2 separate regions of the Homo sapiens genome follow, and region 2 is linked to region 1. The links come from fine-mapping of genetic effects on gene expression. Tissue or cell type: whole blood. Region 1 holds a variant in brackets; the other region holds the start of a gene. All regions are shown on one strand. Distances are between the middles of the regions.

Region 1 (4,860 bases):
GGTAGCTGAGCCAAAGGGAACAAGTATTAGAAAAATACACTACAGAATCCTGATTGTTCTGAATTAATCAAACTACTAATTTACCTTTCTTATGTTTAATGTCAATAAAACAGAAATAACAATCCAAAGCTGATGAGTTAGAAAGAATGGGGAATGCTATTAGAAAAATGGATACTAAAATCCTAGTGTAACTTTTATAATTCCTCCTGTCCAGTGGTATGGACAAAAGATGTAGTCAAGAATCATGTCAGCTTAGCAGCACTGCACAAGGAAATGGAGAAGAATAAATGTTTTTTTCCCAGAGTACCTTCTCCCATCAGCCACCATCTGCACTGGTGAATATTTTTTCAGATTCACACATGACATGCTGATGCATTCAACACTCAAGGCAAGAATTCCTTTAGCCCCACCCTTATGGCACCTGAGATGCTTCAGTACAAAGTAGAAGAAACATCTCAACTCTTAAATATGAACCCCCCCCCTCATTTTCTTTGTCTTTTCCTAGAGTAAGAATGTCATGTATTTCAATGCTATAATTTTTAAAAGATAGCTTTCCCAAAGAATATATATTTAAAATTTACCATAATACGTGGCACATTGAATATAGTTATGCCTTTAGGCAATTTATATACTTAATGAGCCCAGTAACCAAAGTTTAAAGCAGAAAAACACAAGAAAGGGGCAATAAATAATGTGAGAGATGAGCAATAGGATACAGAGATCTCTGAGTAGCTTGAGGGAGCCTACCTCACCTGCCAGCCAGCAGTAAGCAAAGAGGACTAATGACTTAGCATGGGTAGCCACCAACGACTCTGGAGATGGTGTAACAGCTCAGAATTTTCCACTTTCAATGTTCTACTCTCTGAAAGGTGGGGATCACCTAATGCTCTGAACTAAACTGTGCCTCCCTGCATAGTATGACAAGTTTTATTGTCGTCCCACTGTGTGCTTGCGTTGTGCTGCGCCCTCTCACAGGCACAGTCAAATGAAAAGATGAATGCAGGCACTGTAGAAAATAAAATACTGCCTGGTCATCACCTGTAGGTGGAAGCGGTTTATGTGCTCAGTGCTGGGTATGCTGTAGCCCTCATGAGTTATAATAAGTCCCCTATATAAATCTCCTCTGTAAGTTGCCCCAAGAGTTGTTATGGTGTAGAAAATGAGCCCTGGGGCCAGATAAACCTGGATCAGCTCCTGGCTGCAACTATTACTTTGGTCAAGTTCCCTTAAGTTCTCACAAATATGTAATGGGAATACTCCTGCTTACTCTGGGGAGGGCTGTGTAAAATATGACAAGGTTTCTCTTCAACCAACCTAATTAATCCTTTATTCTTTAATTCTCAATACCCCTCCACCTCTCTTTCTTCTTCTTTCTTTCTGCTTTTACTACATGCCCAGGCATGCCACAACACCAGTGACGTTATCAACACCAGCTCACATTCCTTTCCTTATTTTTTAAAAAACTGACTCTCTAACTTGCCACAGACAACCCCTTCCCTCTCTCTCCTCTCTCCCTTACGTGCCCACCTTATCTAAAAAAAAGTTTAAATGTTTATCCAATCAAGTCTAGTTTAAATTATACAGTCCAACCCCACCCAGTGGGGAAAGGGCACAGGGACAAGATTTACGTCAAAACTAAAAGCTTTTGGCCGGGCAAGGTGGCTCACGCCTGTAATCCCAGCACTTTGGGAGGCCGAGGCGGGTGGATCACGAGGTCAGGAGATCGATACCACAGTGAAACGCCGTCTCTACTAAAAATACAAAAACAAAATTAGCCGGGCGCGGTGGCGGGCGCCTGTAGTCCCAGCTACTTGGGAGGCTGAGGCAGGAGAATGGCGTGAACCCGGGAGGCGGAGCTTGCAATAAGCCAGACGGTGCCACTACACTCCAGCCTGGGCGACAGAGGGAGACTCCGTCTCAAAAAATAAATAAATAAATAAATAAAAACTTTCACCCTCCTTTATTGTATACGCTCTCATAACGACCAGCCATATGGGCGGCACCCCCCTGCACAAAAGTAAATTTGCTTTGCTGAAAAATCCTTTATCTAAGTGCTCATTTTCCTTACAACTCCAAGGTCTATTTCTAACGCTGTTATTGGGATTAAATGAGATTATGTTTGTTAGACACCTAGAACAGATCATGACACATGATAGATGCTCAATATATTGTGGCTATTATTTTCCTACCAGATACCTAGCATTTCTTCTATTTTAAGCATGTTCTCTGAGAACACGTGTAATAACAGCACTAAGATGGTCTATTTAGTGATAAGTCTGTCTCCATAGAGAAATGGGTAAGGAACACAGTTACATCTTGAGAAGAGTGCTTGATATAAGGGAATGATTTCCTAAATTATTTTTCCTTTTTAAGTCACAGGACTCCCATCTCCCCTTTATTTTCATAATAATTCTTATGGAAAAGCCCTTTACAGAGTTCCCAGAAGTGGAGATTTCTCTGACTGATGTGGAGGTAGAAGACCCACAGCTTTCT[A/C]TTTATGAAACATCAAAGATCCCTGGAACACAGTTTGGAAACTACGATGGCAAAAACATTAAGTCTTTTTTTGTTTGTTTTTTAAGAGACAGGGTCTCACCATGTTGCCCAGGTTGATCTTAAACTCCTAGGCTCAAGCAATCCTCCCACTTTGGCCTCCCGAAGTGCTAGGATTATAGGTATGAGCCACTGCACCCGGCCAAAACATAGGTCTTGTAGTTAGGTTGAGATTTGAAATCTTGACTTTCACATTTTACAAATCTGTGATCTTGGTTTTCTCATGTGTAAATCAGGGTGAACAATACCTACCCTCTCTGAATTTCTGTTAAAATAAGTTATGTCAAACCCCCAGGAGAGTCATTACAACACTGAAGAGACTCATATATTAGTTTCTATCTGTATTTGACAGGGTTCTTTGGAGAAACAGAACCAACAGAAGATTTTATATATATATAGTATGATCTCACTATCATTCAGGCTGAAGTGCAGTTGTATGATCACAGCTCACTGCAACCTCTGTCTCTCGGCACAAGCAATCCTCCCACCTCAGCCTCCTGAGTAGTTGGAACTACAGGCATGCGCCGCCACGCCTAGCTAATTTTTGTATTTTTTTGTGGAGGTGGGGTTTTGCCATGTTGCCCAGGCTGGTCTCAAACTCCTGGACTCAAGTGATCTACCTGCCTTGGCCTTCCAAAATGCTAGGATTACAGGTGTGAGTCATTGTGCCCAGCCCAAAAATAATGTTTAATCAGGTATCTGGGCATCCCAAACCTCAGTCAAGTTGACATATGAAGTTAACCAGTACACCATCTATGCTAGTTCATTCTTGCATTTATAATAGTATAAAAAACTACCTGAGACTGGGTAATTTATAAAGAAAAGAGGTCTAATTGACTCACAGTTCCTCAGGCTCTACAGGAAGCATGGCTGGGGAGGCCTCAGGAAGCTTACAATCATGGCAAAAAAGGGAAGAGGAAGGAGGCACGTGTTACATGGCCAGAGCAGGAGGAAGAGAGAGAGGGTGAGGTGCTACACACTTTTAAACAACCAGATCTCGTGAGAACTCACTCACTCACTATTACTAAAACAGCAAGGAGGAAGGTGTGCCCCCATGATCCAATCACCTCCCACCAGGCCACTCCTCCAACATTGGGGTTTTTATTTAATATTACAATTCAACATGAAATTTGGGTGGGAACACAAATCCAAACAATACCACCATCTTTTTACTTCCTTTTTGTAAGAAACAGAAAATAAAGTACAGCAGTCCCCCTAATCTTTGGAAGATATGTTCCAAAACCTCCAGTGGACACCTGAAACTCCCAATGGTACCAAACCCTCTATACAGTCCTCCCTTGATATCTGAGGGAGATTGGTTCCAAGATCACTGAAGATACCAAAATCCATGGATGCTCAAGTCCCTCATATAAGATGGTATAGTATTTTACATATAACCTATACACATCCTCTCATATATTTTAAATCATCTCTAGATTACTTACAATGCCTAATATAATGTAAAAGCTATGTAAATTGTTGTTACACTATTTTTAAAATGTTAAATTGAGAGATGAGTCTCATTATATTTCCCAGGCTAGTCTCAAACTCCTGGGCTCAAGCAATCCTCCTACCTCAGCCTCCCAAAGTGCTGGGAGTGAGCTACCATGGCCAGCCTGTTCTATACTTTAAATTTTATATTATTTTATTGTTGTATTGTTATTTTTTATTTTAATATTTTCAACTCATGATTGGTTGAATTGGGAGATGTGGAACCTACAGATATGAAGAGCCAACTGTACTGTTTTTTCCATGTATACATAACTAAGATAAAGTTTTATTTGTAAATTAGGCATAGTAAGAGATTAGCAACAATAATAATAAAAATATACTGTAATAAAAGTTATGTGAATGTGGTCTCTCTCTAAATATCTTATTGTACTGTACTTATCCTTCTTGAGATGATGTGAGATGGCACAATGCCTAAATAATGAGGTGAAGGTGAATGACTTAGGCATTATGACATGGCATTAGACTACTACTGACCTTCTGATGATACTTGAAAAGTAGAGTCATCTGCTTTGAGTGATCTTGGATCACTGAGCCATGATGATGTCCATGGTTGCATGTCAGGAGCAGGCTGACTAATGCCCATGACTAATGGGTATACAGTGTGTATGTTGTAGGTGCACTGGTCGAAGGGATGATTCCCATCCCAGCAGGACAGTGTAAGATTTCATCATGGTACTCAGAATGGTTCACAACTTAAAACTTATGAGTTGCTTATTTATGGAATTTTGCATTTAATATTTTCAGTCTGCAGTTGACTGCAGGTAGCTGAAACTGTGGAAAGCGAAACTGAAAATAAGA
Region 2 (4,860 bases), 150 kb before region 1:
GGTTAGACTAGTAACGATAATCAGAGTAAGACAGAAATACAAACTAAAACACTAGAAAGTTCAGAGAGATCAGTTAAAAAGCTATCAGTATGCCAATTATATATAAGCATTCCCTTCCTTCTTGCTAGTAAGCCATTATCAAAAAATTAATGAAAAACGTAGTTTCGGCCAGCCAGGAAAGCAAACAGTATATAACAAGATGGAAAATCCTAAGATTTTGGAAGAAACAAAATATTTTCCCACAATTGCAAAAGTAGAGAATAGATCACCAAATGCTTATCTCTTACTCTGAGTGTTTCCACAATACTCTATGATTGATTAATGAACAGTTTTTCATCAGGCAATGATTCTGTCCTTAAGCTTGATTTTGCCCATTTGTTGTCCATTCCACATTGTTCTTTTAATCATCTGCTTAGGTCTTCTACAGTAAGCAAGCAAGACAATGCTGAGATGGCACTAAGTACCATACCTGTGAGGCCAAGATTGCTACTGGCATACCCAGTGCTCTGCACCCATGTAACTAGCACTACTAGCCTTGGCAGCCATCTTGAAAATGATGCCCGGCTTACAAGGGAGCCCATGGAATACAGTGCGTCTACTGCACGTTACCACCACCACTCCTACAAACAACCCGAAGGGTAAGTCCTAAAGACGTGTCTGCAGCTTTGCCTTCAAACAGGAAGAAAAATGTCAAGTTACCAGTGACTATGGCCACTCTAATAAGCTACAGCCAGGGATCTAACAGAAATCGACTTAACCAGTTATGATTCTAGGACAAGGAAGAATGAAAAATAAGAACGGAAGAAGGAAAAAAAACCACTTTCTTGTAAATATATTATTTACTGGATGAGCAAATAAAAACAGTTCTCTCTGGTCAAAGCTGTGCTAAGACAAAATTTATCTCAGGTATTAAAATGAAACGTGAAACAAAGGCAATACAACCTCTCGGTAAAGATGACAAAACCTCATATAGTCAAATCCTCTTACCCTAAAACGTTAACAATGTATAAATATCCGATGTCAGTGGATCACATTCTCAAATACCGAGTTCAATAAAGTAGAAAAAGATGACAAGGATAAAAATGTACTGGACCGTAGTTTCCCGTTTACCCTGTTAAGGAATGGCTCATTCACTCCGCTTGCCTTTTGAATTGCTTTGTACTGTGACGAAGCCTTTTAAGTTAGCTTCAAATTAATATTTAGCTGCAAAACAAAGGCATTCTCTAGATCCACTAATCCCTAATCAAGGAAAACAACAACAACAAAAAATCATACTAATACACCAGAGGTAGTAAACGCCTTTCAGAACAGAGCTGTGGATTGGGGCTTCCCAAGCCCCGAGAAGCCGACAGAGCAGGAAGCAAGCAAGAAGGTGGGATGGAGGCTTCAGAGCCCGGCAGCTCACCTGTTGATGAAACCATATCCGTTCCTTACATTGAACCATTTTACTGTTCCCAAAACCTTCGTTGCTGGAAAAGAAAACAAAGCAAAACAAGCCACGATTACCAGCTATCCTTTTCCAAATCCGCCCGGCTTGGGCATCCGGTCCCTCGCACGCCGGCCGCCGCGGCCACCTGACAGCCCTTTCTCTCCACCGCCCGGGTGCGGGGCCACGCAGTCGCCGCCGCCGCCGCACACGTGGGTGAGTCTGAAGCGCGGGGCGCTCCAGGGCAGGCCCGGGGCGCGGGCCCCAGGATGGGTGTGTGCGCAGGCCGCGGACGGAGAGCACGTGAGGGAAGGGGAAGCCGCTCCGGCCTGCGTAGGCGGTGCGCCGCGCCCTCCGAGCACACGCGGAAGGGAGCTGGGTGGGGGTGACGCGAACAACGGCGTGCGGGCCCGAGCGCACGAGGCCGGTCGGCGGGGAGGGGACCCCGTCGCACACGCGGTCGGCGGCGCGCGGCCGCAGGGGGAGGGGCGCGCGGCCGCGCGGGGTCCACAGGGGGCGCGGGAGGCAGTGCGCGCGCGCCTGCCGGGCGGGTCCCCGCGAGAGGGAGTGAGGGGGGGACGGGGGGGATGGGCGGCCGCGCGCCGCGGAGTCGGTGCCCACCGGCCGCGCGCCCGCCGGCTCGCCCAGCTCCGGCTAACGGTTCCGCTGCTGGGCTGCCCGAGGGCCCCACCCCCGTCCCTGTCCGGTCCTCACCGATGACCTTCTTGTCCCCGCCGGCAGGCGCCGCCGATGTGAGGCCGCCCGGGCCACCGCTCCCTGCGCCGCTGCCCGTAGTGCCGGGCTTGGTGTCGGCGGCGCTGAGGGCGGGGGCGGCGGGGGGGGCGGCGGGCGGCTGCTGGGTCTCGGCCTCGCTGCTCATGGTTGCGGTGATGGTGACTGGGGCCGGCTGCGGCAGCTGCGGCTCCTCCCGGGGTGTGATGGTAACTAGGCCGGCGGCGGCGGTGGGGCTGCTCAGGGCTCTCTGGGGTCCGCTCTCCGCTCCCGCTACCGATCGAACTAGCGAGAATGGCGGGACAGGCGGGATAAGCCCTACGAGCGACCCGCCCTAGGCGTTGTTCACTGGCCAGTGGTACTGTCAATCTGCCCACCTGACCCCAATCCCTAGCTTCTATTGGCTAATATTTTATCAGTCCTCCATTCTCATTGGACCTTTGGCGGCTAATTCAGTCGACCTACAACCGTTCCTGCCTCCGCCGGCCGCCATAGAGACCGGAACTAGAATTAGAGTAGTCGGCCACGAAAACCATAGAGTACCCGAGAGGACGGGCAGAAGGAACGTGACTTCCACGAGGCAGCCGCCGGGCTGGCGGGCCCCACGTTCAGGGTTGTGTCTCGGCTGAAAAAAAGGCACGCCCGAACGCTGGGCAGGGATTACCCGGCCGGACCCGGGATTGGAAGGGGGCTCGAAGACGCCTTAGCCCCCCGTGAAGAAAAGGCTTCCCTCCCTCCCAGCTCCAAATACGGTCCCTGTGATCTGAGAACATTACGGCGGGCATAGAGTCGTCTTTTCTTTAATGGCCGTGTAGTCGCGGCACAGCCGAGGGTTTCTGGAATTGCCTTAAACGTATGCGTTTGAAGAGCGTACCCTTTTGTCGGAGCAGTCACCTTGGAGGGACCACGCAGGCTATGGCAGCCCGGGTTCAGCATGTTTAGGGCGAGGGTGTGCTCCATGGGGACCTGCCTTCTGATCCGTTTTACCAGGCATATATTTAAAAAAATGTGTCTTCCTTTCCAAGTATTCACATCTTTTTCTACTGACCACAAATCAGATTTAATTCAACTCACATTTATTGAACAAGCTAGCCTGTTTTGTTTTTTCACTTTATTCCTGCAACAGCCACGTGATAGAGGGATTACTATCCACGTTTCACAAACGATAAAATTGAGGCTGCCACCTGATGTTACTGAAGTCCTCCACCCACCTTCTTTCGTTCTTTTTTAAGCGTCTACTATCGGCTGGGGATGGAATAGTTCGCGAGTCAGTTTCTGCCTTCTGATGGAGGCAGAAATTTAAACAGCCAACACGGTAAATACTCCAGAGCTGCAAAACCACGAAGTATTTTGGGAGTGGAAGCAGGGAGAAGGTGGAGGGCTGACTTTCCGCGCACAGGGTACAGGCGAGAAGAGGTGAGATCTCGGGAAATGCAGTCAAGTAGTTCAGTAAGACTCGAATGTGACATTGGGTTGCAGAGGTGGGCAGTCACTTAGGTATATTTAATTGGAAATATATCCTGAGGGGAAGAGTGAGAAGAGCAATTTTAGAGTCATAAGTAGGGAGGGGCATCTTTTTAAAAATGGCTGCGGAGTGGAGAATGGGTTGCAGAGGGGCAAGGAATGGAAGTAGAGAAAGCAGTTAGGAGGCTAATGCAGTATTCCTTACCCCTACCAATGCCGTCTAGGCCTGTGAGTTCCACCTCCTAAAGGCGTTCTTGAGTCAGTCCTAAACCCTCTAAATGTCAATTCAGAGTCTTTTCATTCCTACTGTCACTACTGTAGGCCATCATCACCAATTGCTTAGAGCAAGGGGTAGGAACCTTTTTCTGTGAGAGCCAAATAGTTAATAATATAAGCTTGGCCGACCATATGGTTCTGACTTACTACTCAGGTTTGGAGCTTGAAAACAGCCTTAATTTTTACATGACACGAATCTTTACATATTTTCAACTATTTAAACATTTTAAAAACCATTTGTATTCTTAGCTCATGAGCCACAGAAAAACGGAGTGTAGTCGGCTGACCCCTAGCATAGAGCAGTGCTGTTGGCTACTAACCACACCTCTCTACCTCTTTCTTACTCTAATATTACCCACCACAACAGCCAGAAAGTTCTTTTGAGAACATCTATCTGATCATGACACTGTCTTACTTAAAATCTTCCAGTGACTACTATTACCCTTAGGGTAGTCCAGATTCCATAATGTGGTTTACTGGACTCTATGACTTCTAAGAGAAGTCTTAGAGTCTTCTCTTGTATTCCCTGTCCAACCTTCCAGGTGCTTGTAACTACTGGCTGCAGGATACTGCAGGAGCAGAGGTAGCAAACAGCTGAATTCTATGAAAATAGAAATTGGTTAAAAGTGTTGCTTCAGTGTATCAGATGACAAGGGAGATGGTGAAATATTACAAGGGCCCTACAGAATAGACACTTGCAACTCTCCAGCCAAGTAAACATGCTTCAGAGGACATCGTAGAGAAAGGACTGTCATCTAGTGGAGTCCTTTAGCCACTGTTACGTTTGGAGTATTACATAAAATTCTACATACAACACTCTTCCTTTCCTCCTTCCTCTTTGCCTGCTTAATTCTTCATCCTCTAGGTCTTGGCTCAGATGCTACTAGGTTAAGAATCCCTCCCATCTTAACACACTGTATTGCTCTAATTAAATGTTCCCCACCAGACTGTGACTTCCTTGG

Evidence for each region. PIP is the estimated chance that this variant, and not a neighbour inherited with it, causes the effect.
Region 2: YBX1 starts here. The variant in region 1 is fine-mapped to the expression of YBX1 in whole blood (INTERVAL, PIP above 0.99).

Annotation. Positions count from the first base shown.
Region 1 is chr1:42,529,844-42,534,703 of GRCh38, reverse strand. The region is part of intron 6 of CCDC30 (coiled-coil domain containing 30); the gene reads right to left. Among named protein-coding and RNA genes, the nearest start is that of CCDC30, 69 kb to the right of the region's middle. The variant A/C (reference allele first, on the strand shown) is at 2,494.
Region 2 is chr1:42,680,012-42,684,871 of GRCh38, reverse strand. It overlaps YBX1 (Y-box binding protein 1), which reads right to left and starts at 2,454. Exons shown (of 8, transcript NM_004559.5): 1 at 2,141-2,454; 2 at 1,406-1,469. The coding sequence starts at 2,306. It also overlaps a transcript of PPIH not described here. RefSeq lists silencers at 1,549-1,698, 1,809-1,918, 2,109-2,308 and an enhancer at 2,749-2,798.